Regions from separate parts of the Homo sapiens genome. Here region 1 is reported to be linked to region 2. Evidence: microRNA targets listed by miRTarBase, many of them from high-throughput screens and not tested one by one. Region 2 holds a microRNA gene; the other region holds the end of a gene's coding sequence.

Region 1 (9,356 bases), not on the chromosome of region 2:
CAGTAGAGGCCGGTGGCGGGTGGCGGGTGGGGGCCCGGGTGCTGCCCCAGTCCACCTCCTGGGTTGCGGCTGCTAGGCGGTGGCTCCGGGTGACTGTGTGCTGTCTGTGTTCCAGTGTTTGTGGGCTACCTGTGCATCGTGCTGCTCATGCTGCTGCTGCTCATCTTCTGGATCGCGCCGGCCCATGGGCCCACCAACATCATGGTCTACATCAGCATCTGCTCCTTGCTGGGCAGTTTCACCGTGCCTTCCACCAAGGGCATCGGGCTGGCGGCCCAAGACATCTTGCATAACAACCCGTCCAGTCAGAGAGCCCTCTGCCTGTGCCTGGTACTCCTGGCCGTGCTCGGCTGCAGCATCATCGTCCAGTTCAGGTACATCAACAAGGCGCTGGAGTGCTTCGACTCCTCGGTGTTCGGGGCCATCTACTACGTCGTGTTTACCACGCTGGTCCTGCTGGCCTCAGCCATCCTCTTCCGGGAGTGGAGCAACGTGGGCCTGGTGGACTTCTTGGGGATGGCCTGTGGATTCACGACCGTCTCCGTGGGGATTGTCCTTATACAGGTGTTCAAAGAGTTCAATTTCAACCTTGGGGAGATGAACAAATCTAATATGAAAACAGACTAGATTGCAATAGGAGCTTGGATGGTTCGAGGAATAGGCATTGGAGGTGGTTTCTGGCCGTGATTGGATGTGAAGTAGAAGAGGTCCTCGATCATGGTGTTAGAATTGACTGGATAGTAACAGGTGGTCTGGTGGATAGCGGGGAGCATGGCTCAGCACCAGAGCAGAGGCCCAGCCAGCCCTCTGCAGCCCAAACGTCCCCAACGGTTGCCTGGCACCATCTCTCTCTGATGAGACGAATCTCATTTTCATTTCCATTAACCTGGAAGCTTTCATGAATATTCTCTTCTTTTAAAACATTTTAACATTATTTAAACAGAAAAAGATGGGCTCTTTCTGGTTAGTTGTTACATGATAGCAGAGATATTTTTACTTAGATTACTTTGGGAATGAGAGATTGTTGTCTTGAACTCTGGCACTGTACAGTGAATGTGTCTGTAGTTGTGTTAGTTTGCATTAAGCATGTATAACATTCAAGTATGTCATCCAAATAAGAGGCATATACATTGAATTGTTTTTAATCCTCTGACAAGTTGACTCTTCGACCCCCACCCCCACCCAAGACATTTTAATAGTAAATAGAGAGAGAGAGAAGAGTTAATGAACATGAGGTAGTGTTCCACTGGCAGGATGACTTTTCAATAGCTCAAATCAATTTCAGTGCCTTTATCACTTGAATTATTAACTTAATTTGACTCTTAATGTGTATATGTTCTTAGATTAGAATAATGCAACTTCGAGTATGCTTTAATATTTCAATATTCAAGTTACAAATGTATAAGGCAGTTAGAAATAATACAGTCACATGTCACTTAATGATAGGGAAACATTCTGAGAAATGCATTGTAAGGTGACTTTATTGTGTGAACATCATGGAGTGCACTTATACAAACCTAGATGGGACACCTATGACCCACCCAGGCCAGATGGTACAGCCTGTTGCTCCTGGGCCACACACCTGTACAGCATGTGACCGCACTGAATACCGCAGGCAATTGTAACACAGTGGTGAGTATTTGTGTTTACAAACATAGGAAAGGTACAGTAAAACTATGGTATTACAATGTTATGGGACCACCGTCATGTAAGTGGTATGTCTTTGACAGAAACATGGTTACGTGGTTCATGACTGTATATTCACTGGAAGATAGTCAAGACTAAAGACACATTAGAGCAAATTGACCCCTTTAACATGTGATTATTGTCCAATTAAAGACAGTTGATTTAAGTAGCATGAGGTATTATTTTATTTGTATTCGATCTGTGTTACCTGGGATCCAGTATCAAATATATCCACATTCTTTATCAGCAAGCATTCATGGCCATTCAGAAGAAATAAATTAGGTAACTTGATAATAAGGCTAAGTGGGAGAGTACCTGTTCAATAGCTCATATATCGAGTACCCTGTCATACAGGAACAAGTTAAAGGACACAATTGAGGTTAGGCTAGCTTCTACAAATTGCAATATGCAGTTTTTGAAAGATTTTCTAACAAAAAGCCAATAAATGTAGCCATCTCCTTGTTGTTTGCAATGGCAGAGCATCCTAGAGTTCCTCAGCTAACCTCTCATTATGTGTCTTAAATGCAAAAGAGCCATTAATTATGCCAGTATTTGAATCAAAGAGGTCATTCTCTGTCTATAGTGTTCCCATCCATGTGTTCCAAATGGGAGCATAGCATGAAGTGATGCACATATTTCACCACGGTATCATGTACTTCATGGCCAGTGTTTTATCTCAGCAGGGAACTACGCCAAGTTGAAAGATGGGGTTGGGTAAAGTAGATTAGGTGAAGTAGAACATAAAATTGAATAGTACCCAATTAAAGTTCCTCAGTAAGAAAAAAAATGTGTTTTTGTAGGCAAAAAGAACATTTCTAAAGTCTCAAGGAATAGCTTCCTAAAGTGTTGAGTAAAGAGGCTAAATAAAATGAGACTAGTTTAATATAGAGAGAAAAATACCTTTATGGAGTAAACGTGTACATGATGATCATGGGTTGTCAGTGATTTGTGAACTGAGAGCAGCAACAACATTATTTTTTAAAAATCTTAAATCCTCTCAATGGATGGTTAACAAATGCTCAAAGTCCATTACTCTTTTTATTGGCTCTTGCAGGTTTTGTGTTTTATCATCAGTGCTTTTAGAAATGCAGGCCTTAACTTACTGAACTGAACTTTCTGAAAACGTAATGTAGCAGTATCAATATACTTTTGGGCATAAAAATAGTTTCCTAGGTAAGGGGTGTGAGATATTCAAAGAATACATGTGGCTAACAAGTGTAATGAGAAAGTTCATGTGTCACATGAAAATGATCATGTTTGTGTTGCTACAGCTTTTGTGGGAAATTTAGTTTAAAGGCAGCTCTTGGTGTACCTTAGTATATTTTAATCCACAATTATACCATTGATACTGAGAGGTGATACCCGATGATCTTCTCTATAATATTCTTAGAGTAAAACAAAATCTCAAAAGTATTAATAGCTCTTCTACCCTTGAAGGTGACTGGTCCTGGGACAGTTAGAATCTTTCAGGTTTACCTCTGTTCAGCAGATACTTCAGTAGGATACATAGCTTTTCTTCCAGTGAAACAAAGTTCATATCATCCATTGTTTTTCAAGCACGTGACACCAGCCTCAAAGTAAATGACATGACCAGTGGTTGAACAGTCTAATTTTCAAATTTAATATAGAGCATATAACTTCTGATTTGATAGTATTTATTTTAAAAAATTATGTTTTCATCATTCATTTGAAAATGAAAAAGCCCCAAAGTGAGAACTTTGGGGGAGGGCCTAGAACATGGATAGATCTCTTAGTGGTCTTTCCAAAAGTACATGTACTTGAAATATTTTCATTATCATACTATTCTTTGAAAAAAAAGATGCTTACTGTATACTTGTTTTCAAGCATCCTCTAAAATCAAAGGTTTTGATCACAATATGCAGATTTCTCTTGATAGATACTTAAATAGGCTATTTCTCTCCTCTTCTTGGGCAATGCCTTGTTTTCTCCTCTGAATATTTGCATTTGAAAGGATTGCTTCCTGTTCTGCTCATTGATCAAAGGTAGGGCCAATTAAGGATTCTAACCCTAACCCAGCACCACAAAGCCCCCCTGGAGCATCTTCCCGGCTGGCAGGACCATGCCATCTCTGTGGAGAAGGTGCTGGGGAGGGAAGTCCTTCCAGTGCCACATGGAGTGAGGCCCTGCCCATGCTGGGGACTTTGGGGAGGAATTTGGTATTCTGGTGGCCTTGCTCAGCTCTCATTGAGATCTTTTCCTATCAGAATGTTAGTGAATATACTTCGCAGCTCTTTGTTCAGCAATAAGGAATATTCTTTCAATTCCTGCTCTTCAAGCCAATTTACTACACCCAGTTGTCTTTCCAGAAGTTCATCCCAGCGGTAATATGTTGGTGTTTGTTCTTCTTTGGATTTCACATCTGTTTTCTGGTAGAAGTGAGCACTGTTCACTTGTGCAGTCGTCTTATTTTCCTTCTTCCTAGATGACTCAGCTCTTTGTAAATGTTGTGCTCAACTTCTAGGGGCCAGTTCTAGACTTTGGAGATGCAGTGTCTCCCAGGTGTGCACGGACACCTGGTCCGTGGAAACAGGTGTGATGGGCACAGGCTGCTGCCCTTCTGTCTGGTCGGGGGATTCCTCTTCTTCAAGCTGCTCAGCTAACCCAGAAGAGGGGAGAGAGTACTCCGGTGGTTCCCAGAGCCCCTCCCGTTGTGCCGCTTCGACCTGACACCTGCTCGATGCTGACTTAGGCTTCCTGCCACCAAGCAGGAAACTAGAAAGAGAACATTTCAGTGTAAGGTCTGTTCCCGACAGCATGGATTAGCTTCCGTGTTCTGAAGTTGTTCTTTTCATGGTGTCTGACACCGAGGGCGTTGTTCGTCCATCAGGCGGGATTGGATGGAGTCTTGGTGTTTTGCCTTCTCAGGGACCAAAAATGTATCATTGACTCCTTAACAGTGACCTTCCTCCCAAGGACATATCCGTGTTCATTTTTCATAGGTTTTACTCATATTCATAGGTAGATTCTGTTAATGTGAGTTGGAAAGAAAAGACCAATTTGTACACCAGTCACACCACAAGACAGTTTATCATATAAAATACCTCAATTTTTTGTATTCCTCATTTCCACCTCACAATTGTACTGGTGATGAATTTTAAGGGTCTGTCCTTTAGCTTATAGGTGATGTTTCACATCTGGCCAGATTCTTATACCTCCATTGTATACTTGAAAAGGTTCAGAATTACAGGAACAGCAGTGAGAATTTGGCCCACTACCACGACTCATTTGTTTCATTCACATTCCTCACGTGCAACAACATAATTATATTTTAAGAAAATGTAACTTTGTTACATCAAAATATGTTGTCTAGTAAAAAGTTGATATTCAGTAGAACAAGGATCATGTAAATAAACATCTATTTCACATGTACCCAAAAGCATTTAAAAAGCAGAATCCAGGGCCCAGAGCATGAGCCAGGGAGGAGGATGTTTTTCTTCTTTTCTCTATTTTTCCCTAAATTGTGCAAACATAGGTGAGTCTCTTAACCTTTCTGTGCCTCAGTTTTTCTACCTCTAAAGGGGTGGGATGGTTCTTCAAATTGTTTCTAAAACACCGGCACTTTCAGCAGTGTTCTGGTGGCCTGAGATGAGAGCACCGTGTTCAGAAGTGCCTGGGAGTGGCACAGTGGAAACTCCGCTTGCACGGACCATGGAGTCTGCTCAGGACCATGCTGTAGGACACACAGCCTCATGCGCTGAGAAAGCAAAGGAAGTGCTGGGTGTAAAGTTTGCATGATTCCATGAAGCTTTAGTTTTCCTTTTTTTGTTTTAAAAGAAAGGGTTTTATATGTTCTATTGTAAAATATGGAAATTAAACAGGGACTTCAGAAAGCCGCACAGAAAGATCACCTTCCGATGGTGTGATGTGCTCCTGACATTCGGCCGAGGTCTGTATTCTGAAAAAGATTTAATGGCCTGTGAAACACGTGGATTCTGTTGCACTGGATTTGTAATAAATGACGCTGAACTTCCTGCTTCCAAGCAGCTCAACCCTGATGCTGAACTGACACCAGGCGAATGTCAGGGCTCCCAAACCACTAGTGCCAAAGGGTCATGTTGAAAAGTTCAGAATATTTATTTGTCAGAATATAATAATTGCCCCCCACCTTAGTATTTTTGCACTTTACAGAAATTTAGATACTGTTTTTCAGTGGCTTGAGCGTTTTGCCTTTTCAAAGGATAACTATTATTTTCTTGAAAATGGAATATAATCATGAGAGGAAGAAGATGTAAAAAATGTCAAATGTTGATTGGTTGTGTAAAAGTTTTGTCATAGACATGTATTGGGGAGCTTCCAATTAGCATACATAGACACATGTGTCAGTGGCCAAGACCTGCTTATATTTTGCTTTATAGATGTAGTCATAGCATGTTGTTATTGCCTCATGTAAATAAAAAGGCTATTAAGTTTTCCAGTAATATTTATTAATCTGTATGTGTTTTAAAATAAAATAACTTATTTCTAGCTGAACATTTGTTGATTTTTTTTTTTCCCTTTACTTGAAATGCTTATGTAGTCTCAGGTTCCAGATCATCCCAGTTCCTCCCATTTTTCCTATTCTCTTTTTAGAAATGAGTAGCCTAGGCTGGGTGCAGTGGCTCATGCCTGTAATCGCAGCACTTTAGGGGGCTGAGGCGGGTGGGACACTTGAGGCCAGGAGTTTGAGACCAGCCTGGTCAACATGGTAAAACCCCATCTCTACTAAAAAATAACAAAAATTAGACAGGCATGGTGGTGCACATCTGTAGTCCCAGGTACTCAGCAGGCTGAAGCAGGAGAATCACTTGAACTTGGGAGGCAGAGGTTGCAGTGACCGAGATCACAGCACTGCACTCCAGCCTGGACAACAGAGCGAGACTCCATCTCAAAAAAAAAAAAGACAGAAATGACTAGCCTCTAGATCTCTATAACAATGTAGAAAATGTCTACCTGTGGGCCAGGTGTGGTGGCTCACACCTGTAATCCCAGTGCTTTGGGAGGCTGAGGCGGGCGGATCACCTGAGGTCGGGAGTTTGAGAGTAGCCTGACCAACATGGAGAAACCCTGTCTCTGCTAAAAATACAAAATTAGCCAGAGGTGGTGGTGCATGCCTGTAATCCCAGCTACTCAGGAGGCCGAGGCAGGAGAATCACTTGAACCTGAGAGGCAGAGGTTGCAGTGAGCCGAGATCACACCATTGCACTCCAGCCTGGGCAACAAGAGCAAAACTCCGTCTCAAAAACAAAACAAAACAAAACAAAAAAGGCCAGGTGCGGTGGCTCACGCCTATAATCCCAGCACTTCAGGAGGCCAAGGCAGGCAGATCACGAGGTCAGGAGTTCGAGACCAGCCTGGCCAACATGGTGAAACCCCGTCTCTACTAAAAATACAAAAATTAGTTGTGCGTGGTGGTGTGTGCCTGTAATCCCAGCTACTCCAGAGGCTGAGGCAGGAGAATCACTTAAACCCGGGAGGTGGAGGTTGCAGGGAGCCGAGATCGTGCCACTGCACTCTAGCCTGGACGACAAGAGCGAAACTCCGTCTTGGAAAAAAAAAGAAAAAGAAAAAGAAACCGTCTACCTGTGCATCTACCTTAGGGAGCAAATCCATGATGTATGCAGAAATTCCCTGTCCTGCGACTGTCTCTTGATCCAATGAAGTGATAGTATTAAATAAAACCAGCTCTATTTTAATATGTTAGTACCTTTGACATGTTTTTGAGTTGTATAACATATCATTTTACATTTTTAGCCCATAGAAAATGAGACAATTATAACGCATTTTCATACTTCAAGCATCATTAGAAATCTTGTTGCTGATCTTCTTTAGTGTCCTATAATTTTCTTTGTTTTGGTTTTTTTTTTTTTTTTTGAGAGACAGGGTCTCACTCTCTTACAGTCATAGCTCACTGCAGCCTCAAACTGCTGGGCTCAAGCGACCCTCCTGCGTCAGCCTCCCCGGTAGCTAGGACTACAGGCCTGTGCCTCCACACCTGGGTAATTTTTTAATTTTTTTGTAGAGACAGGGTCTAGTTATGTTGCTCAGACTGGTGTCCTATAAGTTATTTTATCAAATGAGAAAAAATGAGTAAGATTTTTTTCTTAGTCTCTATCCCAAAAGATTTAATTATTCACATTTTGATCAAAGTATACTTATACAGAAAACAAGAACAAACATTTTATGAAATCACCAAATGCATCTATGGATAACTCCAGATAGGTTTTTGGGGCTGTGAAGTGTATTAATGCCAAATTCTGCTGTCATTGAACAAAAGCTTGCATTGGTTGGTTACTACTATAGAGTAGTTTGTGCTGGCTGCTAGCCAAGCCTTCCCTGCAAGGGACTTGTTCTAGAATTTCTGTGTTGCTTAGTTACATCCATCCCATCCATCTGATGACCCTTCGTTTTGACATTGTCAGCATGTTTGTTGTAGTATTAGTCACACTTACTTGTTCACCATTAGTTTGAATCTCACATGATAGTTTTAAAAAGGTTTTTAGTTGGAGAGGTGAGACACAGACAAGAAACAGATATAAAAGATCTAGGTACCTCTGCAGCCAGGCACAGTGGCTCACGCCTGTAATCCCAGCACTTTCGGAGGCCAAGGCCGGTGGATTACCTGAGGTCAGGGGTTTGAGACCAGCCTGACCAACATGGAGAAACCCCCGTCTCTACTAAAAATACATAATTAGCTGAGCGTGGTGGTGCACGCCTGTAATCCCAGCTATTCGGGAGGCTGAGGCAGGAGAATTGCTTGAACCCGGGAGGCAGAGGTTGCGGTGAGCTGAGATCACGCCACTGCACTCCAGCCTGGGCAGCAAGAGCGAAACTCCGTCTAAAAAAAAAAAGATCTAGGTACCTCTCTATTACCAGTCCAAAGAGGACAGGATTCATTCCAGCCGAGCACATGAGAAAGAGGTGTGGAACTGGATGGTGGCAAGCAGGACAGCGGTGGTGGTGACCAAGTAAACATAATGAGTGTGAAAATCACTGAGATGATGGACCAGAGGGTGGAGAGAAGGTCAGACCAGGTTGCTCATCTATAACACTGAATCTGTTTTATTTTTGACAAAGACATTGGGGGGATCCCAGCATCTTCTCCTTCCCTTAATTTGGCATACTTATTGTGTTAGTTTTTTATTACGGCTCTTCACAAGTTACATACCTTGTAGCTTAAAACAACACACGCGTATCATCTTACAATTCTGGAGGTTAGAAGTTCCACACAAGCTTTGCTGGGCTAAAATCAAGGTGCAGACAGGATTACTTCCCTCTGGAGGCTCCTGGGAAGAGTCTCATCCCTGCTCTTTTGGTTTCTAGAGGCCGCCTTTGTATCTTGCCTCGTGGCTCCTTCCTCCATCTTTGAAGCCAGCAATGTCATCTCTCTCGCCACTCATCCATCATCATAGCTTACTCTCTGACTCTGACACTCCTGTCACCCTCTTGGAAGGACCTTCATGACTGCTTTGGGCCCACATGGACAATCCAGGGTCAGCTCCCTCTCTCAAGATCCTTAGTTGCCTCTGCAGAGCCCCTTTTGCCATGGAAGGTGGCACAGTCACAGGTTACAAGGTGAGGACGTGGATATCTTTGGGCTTTCTGCTTACCACATCCACTTACCATTTTACCAAGTGAGGCAGTTCACAAAAGCCAACTCCTGGCTTTTAATC
Region 2 (9,752 bases):
AGAATTCCAGAGCTTGCTTTGCTCTTATTAATGCATAGTAGAGTAGAATGCATTTAAATATTTCATAGGCATTCAGTAATTTGTGTGTAATCGCCTTGTTAGCAGACCAGTAGAAGTAGAACAGGCCTGTGAAATGGTGTTAGTGATTGCATGGGTAATTTACAGACCTTTGCCATCAGAAAAAGTATTATTGTTGGCTAGTATGAAGCTGTGAAATAGAACTACCAATAAGTAAAAAAAGAAACTTAATAAAGGTTTTGTAACAAGCATCTTCAGGGATAACAACCCCACTTGGTCCTTTTGAAGCAGCCGTAATTTATGACATAGGCAATATATCAAATGCATAAGATAGTATTATGGAGCATTCATATGAAAAGGGTATTTGCAACATTAGTTCCAACTTCCTGCAAGGGACATGATTAAATGATTAATGAAATGTCCCTTTGCATATGCATTTTGAAACAGCAATTAGGCACTGACTGAGAAAATCCACCAATCCTCTCATTTTTCAGTATTATCTCATTCTTGATTTATAAATCATAGAGAATTTTTGAACAGTAATATGTAGTACCTGAGATAGTTATAAAAACATAAAAGAGAATAATTTCGGCACAAAATAGTCATAAATTCATAAATTCATAATTTAATGTTAATACTTAGCCTATTTATTTAGTCTTATTACATTGTATTTATATCTGACACTATTTCTGTACTTTGATTGGCATAATTAAGTAGAGGGAATGAATAGGCACTATTCTTTTACATATCACTGGTAAACAATAGCGAGGAAAGGAGAAGGGAGATGTGGCAGAGGTATGTATGTGTTTTTCAAGTTCTCAGTAATCCACTGGAGGCTGTTCTATAAATGATCATTGAAGGGCTGCAAGCTAGCCTATAATTACAGGAAAGAAAGTGGCAGCTCTGGCATTTCATAACTATGTGTCCTCGAAAAGTGCTTTGTGAGTTTGTCACCAATGATAATTTAGATAGAGGCTCATTACTGAACATCACAACACTTTAAAAACCTTTCGCCTTCATACAGGAGAATAAAGGACTATTTTAATGGCAAGGTTCTTTTGTGTTCCACTGAAAAATTCAATCAAGACAAAACCTCATTGACTATTATTGTAGTCTACAGTCTCTATTCTAATAAAAGCTGCATAGATAAATTGAATAGGGCTCTAAGACCCAAGTATATAAAGCAAACATTTTGTACTTTTTTTAGTTCTTTAAATATAAGATCATGATTATCACTAAGCAGTAAACAAGTGTAGAAAATCATTTTAAAAAGTGATTTCACAAGAAAATGTTATAGTGACTATGCCTTTTATTGCAGACCTGTATGTTCTACTTATCTTGCTTCCTGCATTTACACCCTAATCTCAGTGTATAACTGAAGCATTTTTGAAAATATGCAACATTTTTTCTTATATGGAATAAATATGTTTGTGTTCCCCAAGAGTTCATGGTGAAAAAAAAAAAAATCTTACGGAAACACAGCAATATGAAGCCTTAAGAATACAACACACAACTGTATTATGCTGGTAGAAAATTGTCTTACTGTTCATTTAAATTTTGGGGGAAAAAACCCTGGGAAACAATTTTTAAATGTAGTCTTGTTATTTAGGAATTGGTGACACTTTCTGTTAACTAACCTCTGGCTTACTCTCACATTCCATACCTCCTTCCCAGAGAGCATGAGTGAATGTTAATCCTCCTCACAGGTTCACAGCAGAACAAACCTGAGCTGAGCTTAGAGAGCAGACAGGTATAGTGGAAGTGCCTCCCCTGCACTCCAGCCACACTCCTTCAGCTTGACCTTATCCACCTTGCTATTTTAGTCCACAGTTTCTCTTCAACCAAGACTGACATTGTGACAAGATACATGGAGGTTTTGTTGTTATGATCAATAAGGAAGTATTAAAACAAACTGGTTTAATTTATCAAGGTATAGGCAAAACAAAGGTTTCTGATTGTTGAACCTAGGTATATAAACAAATAAACCTTTTGTTTATAATAAAATTAGTTTTTATCAGCAACACGACTTTAATTACTCTTCATATGTTTTACATGTATGTGTCTTATATTTTTTCTGCCTCACTGTGATCTTCAAGAAATAAAAGTAAATAATTTGAATGGATACAAAAATATATTTGTTGAATTCAGTATACCCAGGGCTATTATAAACTTTTTAGACTATTATATCATTCTAAATGATACTTGAGCCCACTTGGGTAAATATATAAATTCTTATTTAATTTTGTGAATTTCTTTTCAATATGCCATTTCACTTATATGCAATGATGAGAACATCTCTGAAATTGTTGCCTTACTTTGCCCATTGGTGAAATAGATACACTAAAGGATATTGAATTACTTGAAGATTACTTTCTTTAATTTTGGGAAGCATCAAAGACATTATGTATTACAAATTACAGAGTATATATTATTAAATGTTTTCATGTTCATTGGAGATGCTGCTTTACTAAATTACTTTTGGTGTATTAACATACCACTCATTAAAGAGATCTCTTTAAACATCGTATAGAAATAATAATGGTAGACTAATGCATATTCAAGGTTAGAGTGAGATCATTTGGAATGATTTATTTTTCACCATTTTAAAAATAAGATTAGGACAAATGTCTCCTAGTTAGAACACTGGACATGAAATGTCAATCTTGTTATTCTAATGATCAAAATCTTCAATGAAGTTCTTTATTACTAACAGCAAATCATCATTCTTCATAAATATTGATTTTCCACGGGAGATAATTTGCCATCTTTACCTAATTCATACCACATCCCAATGAAATAAAACATTGCTCACTAAAATACATCATAGAAACAACAAACTGTTCTAACAATGAAATAGAAAATTGCCTTTGTTCTCTTCAGAATTGCTTTTGGTTCATAGATTTGTAAGCTGTTCTTTTTAAAAAAATGGCATAAATAATATGACTTCTACTATAACTCTGTAAATGGTCTGGGGAAATATTTTTTGTAATAACAGGTAAGCTTAGAGACAGTGACATTTTCTGCCATTTGAAGAGTCTCTTTACATTACATAAATAATTTTCACACAACACGTAAGCAGCTTTAACTTTTATCTGTATGGTTTCAAGGCTTTCTGTTTTCCCAGTGCACAGAAACATCTGACTTCAGTGTAGTGCTTTTTAAGTGTAGCCTATGCCACTAAGATCGACATCACTTTACATTCTGTTTTGTGTCTTCTGTTTGTTTAGGCACCTTAACAATGAACACGCATTGGATGACCGAAGCACTGCTCAGTGTCGAGTGCAAATGCAGGTGGTGCAACAGTTAGAAATACAGGTTTGTTAAATGCTCACTTAATGGACTCTTCTTAGATTTCTGGTGTGTTACATTGAGTACTGAGCAGATTCTGGGTCTTTCAGCCTGCATTTTACTGTCTTAGCCATTCAATACTAATGGAGATACATGATATTTTAGATTGTTTTAAACAGTGGCAATTATTGATAACCCAGGAAGGATTGCTGTAGTTTAATGTACTTATCACTTATATTTTTATAACTTTTAGACCACATCATATGAATTTGAATATCCCAAAGTAGTCAGATCTAAGTTTTTCCCAATGCAGGTTAGACCAAACTCCCAATTAGATATGATTTTATTACAGAGAGAGTTTTTACATGAGCTAACCTTGATTTTTTTCCATGAGATTTTATATTGTGGCAAATGACCAGTCTTTACAATATCATGCCTGTAATATAACTAACACCCTGAAAGATAACCTTTTCTTTTCTTTTTCTAGTGTAATTTTAATTAAAGAACTTGCAAAAAAATCTTTATACTTTTCTTTAGCTAGATTAAAGGCAGATAATTTATATCACAGATGATAATACACACATGTTGTATCAAATGCGACTGTTTTAAGTTAAAAAAAATTCTATTAATGTTGAAACAGAATTTGGCCAGAAGTAAATAGAATCCATAGAACTAATCAGAAAGCAATTATGTCACCCAAAGTCTGACTCTTGTTATGTTTTACTAAGCCTTTAAGGCTTTCTCTAACATTTCATCTTAAAGATGATCTTTTCTCAATGAAACTAATACTTTGTTTCATTTAAAGATACGATTTTTCTTCATATTTTATTACATCTTGTTTCAAATTCGTGTCATTGCTTTTTTCAGAGAGCTTACTAAAAATATTTTGTTTTGACTTGTAAAATAATCAAGAACACAAAAAGCACCATCACTGTTAAAGTTTAAAAAGCTTTTTATAAACCTGTTTACCATTTATAAAAGGTAGACTAAAACATAAGAGTTCAGCTGATGATACAGTCTTCGGTGTGACCAATTACGCCTATTTTTTTTTTTTCCTTCTGCTGTGTCTGACTGATGGAAAAGTAAGGTCCGTCAGTTGTAATGAGACCCAGTGCAAGTGTAGATGCCGACTCCGTGGCAGAGTTCAGCGTTTCACACTGCCTGGTCTCTGTCACTCTATTGAATTAGATTGATGATGGCAGATTGCAGGGGGCACTAACTGGACCTCAGTGGGAATGCATGAAGTGTGTAGACAATCCTGGCAGGCACTTTGCTTTGAGAACCCTTCACCCCTTCACAGCTGTTGGCACTAGTCCATTGCTAACAGTGTCCACAGGACTTTAAAGAGACACCATGGGCCTTCTAATTTATGGTTTCAGTAACTTGTTACTGTCGAGGCAACTGTGACCTCAATTCTCTTATTGACAAAAAGATGAAGTGTTATTTGTTTTCTCTGACCTTTTAACATAAGAAAAGCTATAAAAGTTTTTCCCCCTCCATAGCTAAAGTTGCATTTCCTCCCAGATAAGTTCCTCCTGACGCAGACTTTTACATGCAGGAATCATTATTCTGAGGCAAGCTCAATGATAAGATGTATCACTGCAATAAAATAGCTGTATCAGTCATTTCTAAAACGCTTCTGATCTCACTCTTTCTTAACAGCTTTCTAAAGAACGCGAACGTCTTCAAGCAATGATGACCCACTTGCACATGCGACCCTCAGAGCCCAAACCATCTCCCAAACCTGTAAGTGCATATTGCTTTATAAACAGTAAATAGCTCTACCAATGTAACAGACTAAGAAAATGAACAATTTAGTGACAGTTAGAAAACAATGAGTGTGATGAAAAATACGGCAATAAAATGAAAGTAAAATGTAATCGCTTGTCAAATTGTATGTTTCTTTTAAAGTAATGCTATCTTTTACAAAATCTATCCAATCTACACCATGGGTGACACTAAACAAAGTACACCTATCAGTGCACAAATCACTGCCTTGGGGCTGAAGCCAGAGAGAATTTCTTTCTGTGATAGGTTTACAGATATTAAAAGGAAACCCTCTTTGAGCAACCTGAAAAGTAGTAACGTACAAATCACAAATAGAAATGTATGTGGTGTGCTGAAGAAGGCAGATCAATCATAAGATACATATAAATAGATTTTTATCAAATATTTTGTCATAAAGGTCATGGTATTTTTATAGCCAATTTTGTCCTATTTCTTTGGTTATTTCAGTTAAGATGTATTTCACATATTGATATGTTTTATTGTACATTATACATAATGTTAATTTAGAGAGCTTATCACAAAAAGAAGTGGGTGATTATAGAAAATTAAGACTAGTTTCCCTCAAAAATATATGAGATTTAAGCTCAACCTAATAATGTAGTCAGATACACAGACTGTTGAAAAGAATATACTTTATCTCATTCAGCTGATGTTTGCACAGAAACTTAGAGTAATCAACTGGGTAACTCTAGTTTAATGAAAGTTTGTGGGATACTTTTTAATAAGGCCCCTGTATAGCCTGATGATTAATGATTGCCAGTCTTGCCTCTCCCTCTATTTCTTTAGGTAAAAAACGAACATTTGGCTTTGTAGTTGGGGAGGAGACAGAAGACGACTATATTGTCTAATTTTCTCGTAATGTCTCGATATTTCTTATCAATTAATATCATTCAAAATTTACTTTTTTGGTAGAGATTATATTTAAACTCTGCTAAGCTATTTCTGCTTTTCCTTTGTACTGTATTTAAAGGTAGAGTACTGTAAAAACATTTTTATAGGAAGAAAAAAGACATGTATCTTTTTGAATCTGACATACTACTTTTTAAACTCTAAAATGTCTGAGTTTTTAATTAAAAAATAAACTTTTGAGGATATTTTTGATCATGTATTTATGACTATCTTTTCAATAAGATTTTTTCCCTCATTGCTTCTATAGTATAATGTAGATAATCACAAGACAGAATAATTGTCTCATAAATCCATCAGGAATCTGCAGCTTGTTCTTTTCCAATTAATTATTCAATCAGTAAATTTTTTAAAACTCCAGCAGCATGGTTACATCTACACTAATAAAGAATTTTCAGCCTATAATCCAAAACAGAACCTGAATGAATAATGTAATTGAAGTATTACATTACATAAACCACACATGAAAGAATTGCTAATTGCGTTTGATGGTGGGCAATTAATACAGAATCTTAGATGAGCGATTTAAAATGAAACCACAGTTTAAAGTTCCCTTTGGAACTAGCGATATCTGAAGTGAGGAACTGCACTATTGGCCTCAGATCGGTTTGAAAGAAGAGTGGTCAATACTCACAACCCTCAAAAAAACCCTAAAATTTATACACTGTACAAAAGAAGCTTCAAAATTGATATGATAGTAGAGATTTATGGTCTCATGTGCAGTGGCTCAGTTGAGACGGCCCACACATTTGATAAATATTAATAGCATGAATTTATTACCAAGGAGAAATGAGCTCTGTTGGTTCATCACTGCACCCTTAACAGCTATCAGTACATGAACACAAGGTGCAACCGCACTGTCTATTATATGACCCCATTTACTCTCTGAATGGTACTTCATTAAATGGTACCTTTTGGCCATGCTATGGATGGATGAAAATCAAAGTTATCAAGGCTGCGAGTCCTGAATAATGAGTTTCACCCAACCTTGACTATATTCAGATGAGTCGAGGTGGCTAAGTGCTCATCCTAGCTTTTACATGCTTCCCTTTAGTTAATAATAAATTCTATTTTATCAGTTTGTGATTGTACGCCTACAAACATGGTATGCTTATTATTACAGGATAGCAGAATAAGTTACCGTAACATTGTAAACATGAGTGGTTTGCATTGAAAAAGATGTATTTCTCCTGTTTTGATAACTTTTAATGTGTTGGTAAAATGTACAGAGTCCTGTCACATATTCATCAGGATAGATATTTCATTGATTTGCAATTTGGTATTTTCTGGGTTCTGAATGTGCCATTTTGTTCTGGTTTGCAATTCTAAAAGTGAATATGTAACCATCCAGCTGAGTTTTTTTTTTTTATGTATGGGGAAATACTTTTCTTTTCTTTTCATATTTTTAACATACAAGTATGTAATGCTGATATTTTCTAAATATAACATTGTTATGTATATGTTCTGATGTTGATATTTTAGAATATTTGCAAAGTCACATACAGATGCATATGGATGTTTCTGCGTTTCTCAAACTATGCAGAGGTGCTCTTGTACATCCCAGAGAAGCTTACACCAGTGGCTTTGTAAATGTATTAAATGCAGCATTTAGGAGCATTATCTCAGCTTTCATTTATGTACGTAACAAAGAATTCCCTACCCAGTCTGCTGGCTTAGAGTATGAACAGAATAACAGTTTGTGGTTTATTGGGAACAGATGCACTTGGGGATGCCTTCAGGGTGCCAGTCGTTATTATTAGACTGCTAATGTGCTTCTTCTGGCTGCTGCCCAAGAAAGAAGAACAATTAGCTGGCATATGTTAATTTTTGTTTCCCTAACAAATCTCTCTACTGACTAAATGTGTAAAACAAATCCACAAAGAAAGATCAATCAATGCTGTACACATCATTTTCTCCCCATTAAAAAAAGGTTTATCTTAAGAAGTGTATTTGGGATTTAAAAAGACAGGTGTTACTAAATTATAAACAAAAGCTGAATATTCTCTATTTAGCCACTCAGCAGTTACTTTATAGAGAAACAGAACAATTAGAATTAGTTTTCTTGCTTGGTTGTATAGCCTACTGTATAAAGTAAAAAGGACCACAGATTACCTCTTGTGAATACCATTTAAATGTATGGCAGAAATCTTTTTATGTGCTGCCCTGCGTAAAAATTTTGCTAATTGGATGCTATTTATGACAAAAGATGTGTGGTAAATATGACAGAGGTGATATGAGTTTTTTGATAATGAAGAACAGGGCCTTTCTGAGGGGAGTAATGAAGGGCACACTGTTAAACAGCTTGCATACATTCTCACCTTTTTTCTTTTTTCTACCCTGACACCCACTTTCCAGGGTACATCAGCATTAAGTGACACTGTAATCATAAATTGAAAATGATACTTCCAGAGGAATTGGCAAACTTGACATTTCATTATATTTGTTAACACATGCCACAAATGATTGTTAGTGAGGAAATTCCATTTCCCTCTCTCCATCTCCAATCAGATTTAATTTGAAAATTTTCAGCCTCCTCCGGCTAATTTGCAATTAAGACAATTTTGTTTGAATATGTAGTAATGTCATTACCATTCCACCAAATTAGCAAGGAGACTAAAGGTCAGTGTAAAATTTTCCAGCTGGCTGGAGCCTCTCAGCTGAGATTTGGGACTACGAAAAAAAAAATTCTGGCATCAACAGAATAGCAACTTACTTTAAATCCTATTGGTTAAAAACATTGCATCCTTCATTATTGCTGTTGTTGTTGCTTCACTGGGGGCTAGACCTGTTTAACAACAGGGGCAGTCGATAATCAGCAACTGGCTTTTATTTAAGGAAATAGACTTTCGCTGAAGTCTGGTAGGACAAGAAGGAGTTAGTCCTAAGTAACATTGCAGTAGATTATTAGATAACCTCTAACAGAATCCTCTAATTAGAGTTCTTATGATACAATTTCATCCTGTAATTAGTTGAGATTGGCTGCTTCCTTTTGCAGCTTATTAGTGGCAACACAGCTGTAGAAGTGAATCCACTCTCATTTGTCAAACCTTTTTAAGTCTTTTTCTCTTGTCTCTACCTTTTTCCTGCCCTTCTCTTGGGCCTTTGCAGCTAAATCTGGTGTCTAGTGTCACCATGTCGAAGAATATGTTGGAGACATCCCCACAGAGCTTACCTCAAACCCCTACCACACCAACGGCCCCAGTCACCCCGATTACCCAGGGACCCTCAGTAATCACCCCAGCCAGTGTGCCCAATGTGGGAGCCATACGAAGGCGACATTCAGACAAATACAACATTCCCATGTCATCAGGTAGGATATGAATGCTCAGTAGAGCACTTTTACTTTGGGAGAGGAAAACTGTAGCTGAATCAACTGTACATGAGCCATTCCAGAGCACATGGAAACTCATGTCATGATTTATGGAGTGATAATTGTTTTATTCCTGGTAAATGCGAATAGGGGCGATTCCCTAAGCACATCATGATGAATTGTTCTGAATGGTTGTTCAGGAAAGAAAGCTCTCCCCATTAGAGACACTGAGAGATGTCAGGATAGCCCATATTATCACCTCAATTCAATGAGATCCTTTGATCTCTGAGGGAAGACTAGCAATCCAACATCTGTGAGTAATGCTGTAGAGAAGAGCCATTTTAAAGGACATATACGAAACACCGTTGCTTTATGCAAGACAGTTCGAGGTTTACATGAATCAGTCTTTATCAAGGTGCTACCTAAATGAAATCCTGTCACA

The links. Region 2 holds the annotated microRNA hsa-miR-3666 (CAGUGCAAGUGUAGAUGCCGA, at 4,416-4,436, shown strand). A microRNA usually pairs through its seed, bases 2 to 8, with sites in the 3' UTR of a target mRNA and lowers its output. Matches are read on the target gene's strand: a 7mer-m8 pairs with bases 2 to 8, a 7mer-A1 pairs with bases 2 to 7 and ends in A, and an 8mer does both.
Region 1: miRTarBase lists NIPA1 as a target of hsa-miR-3666. Seed matches in the 3' UTR shown: 7mer-m8 at 5,643-5,649 and 7mer-m8 at 5,823-5,829.

Annotation. Positions count from the first base shown.
Region 1 is chr15:22,823,613-22,832,968 of GRCh38, forward strand. NIPA1 (NIPA magnesium transporter 1) reads left to right here. Exons shown (of 5, transcript NM_144599.5): 5 at 116-6,177. The coding sequence ends at 627. Among named protein-coding and RNA genes, the nearest start is that of NIPA2, 10 kb to the right of the region's middle. RefSeq lists an enhancer at 3,277-4,029.
Region 2 is chr7:114,648,958-114,658,709 of GRCh38, forward strand. It overlaps MIR3666 (microRNA 3666), which reads left to right and starts at 4,388; the gene lies at 4,388-4,498. FOXP2 (forkhead box P2) reads left to right here. Exons shown (of 17, transcript NM_014491.4): 9 at 3,246-3,333; 10 at 4,969-5,052; 11 at 9,109-9,310. RefSeq lists an enhancer at 6,097-7,361.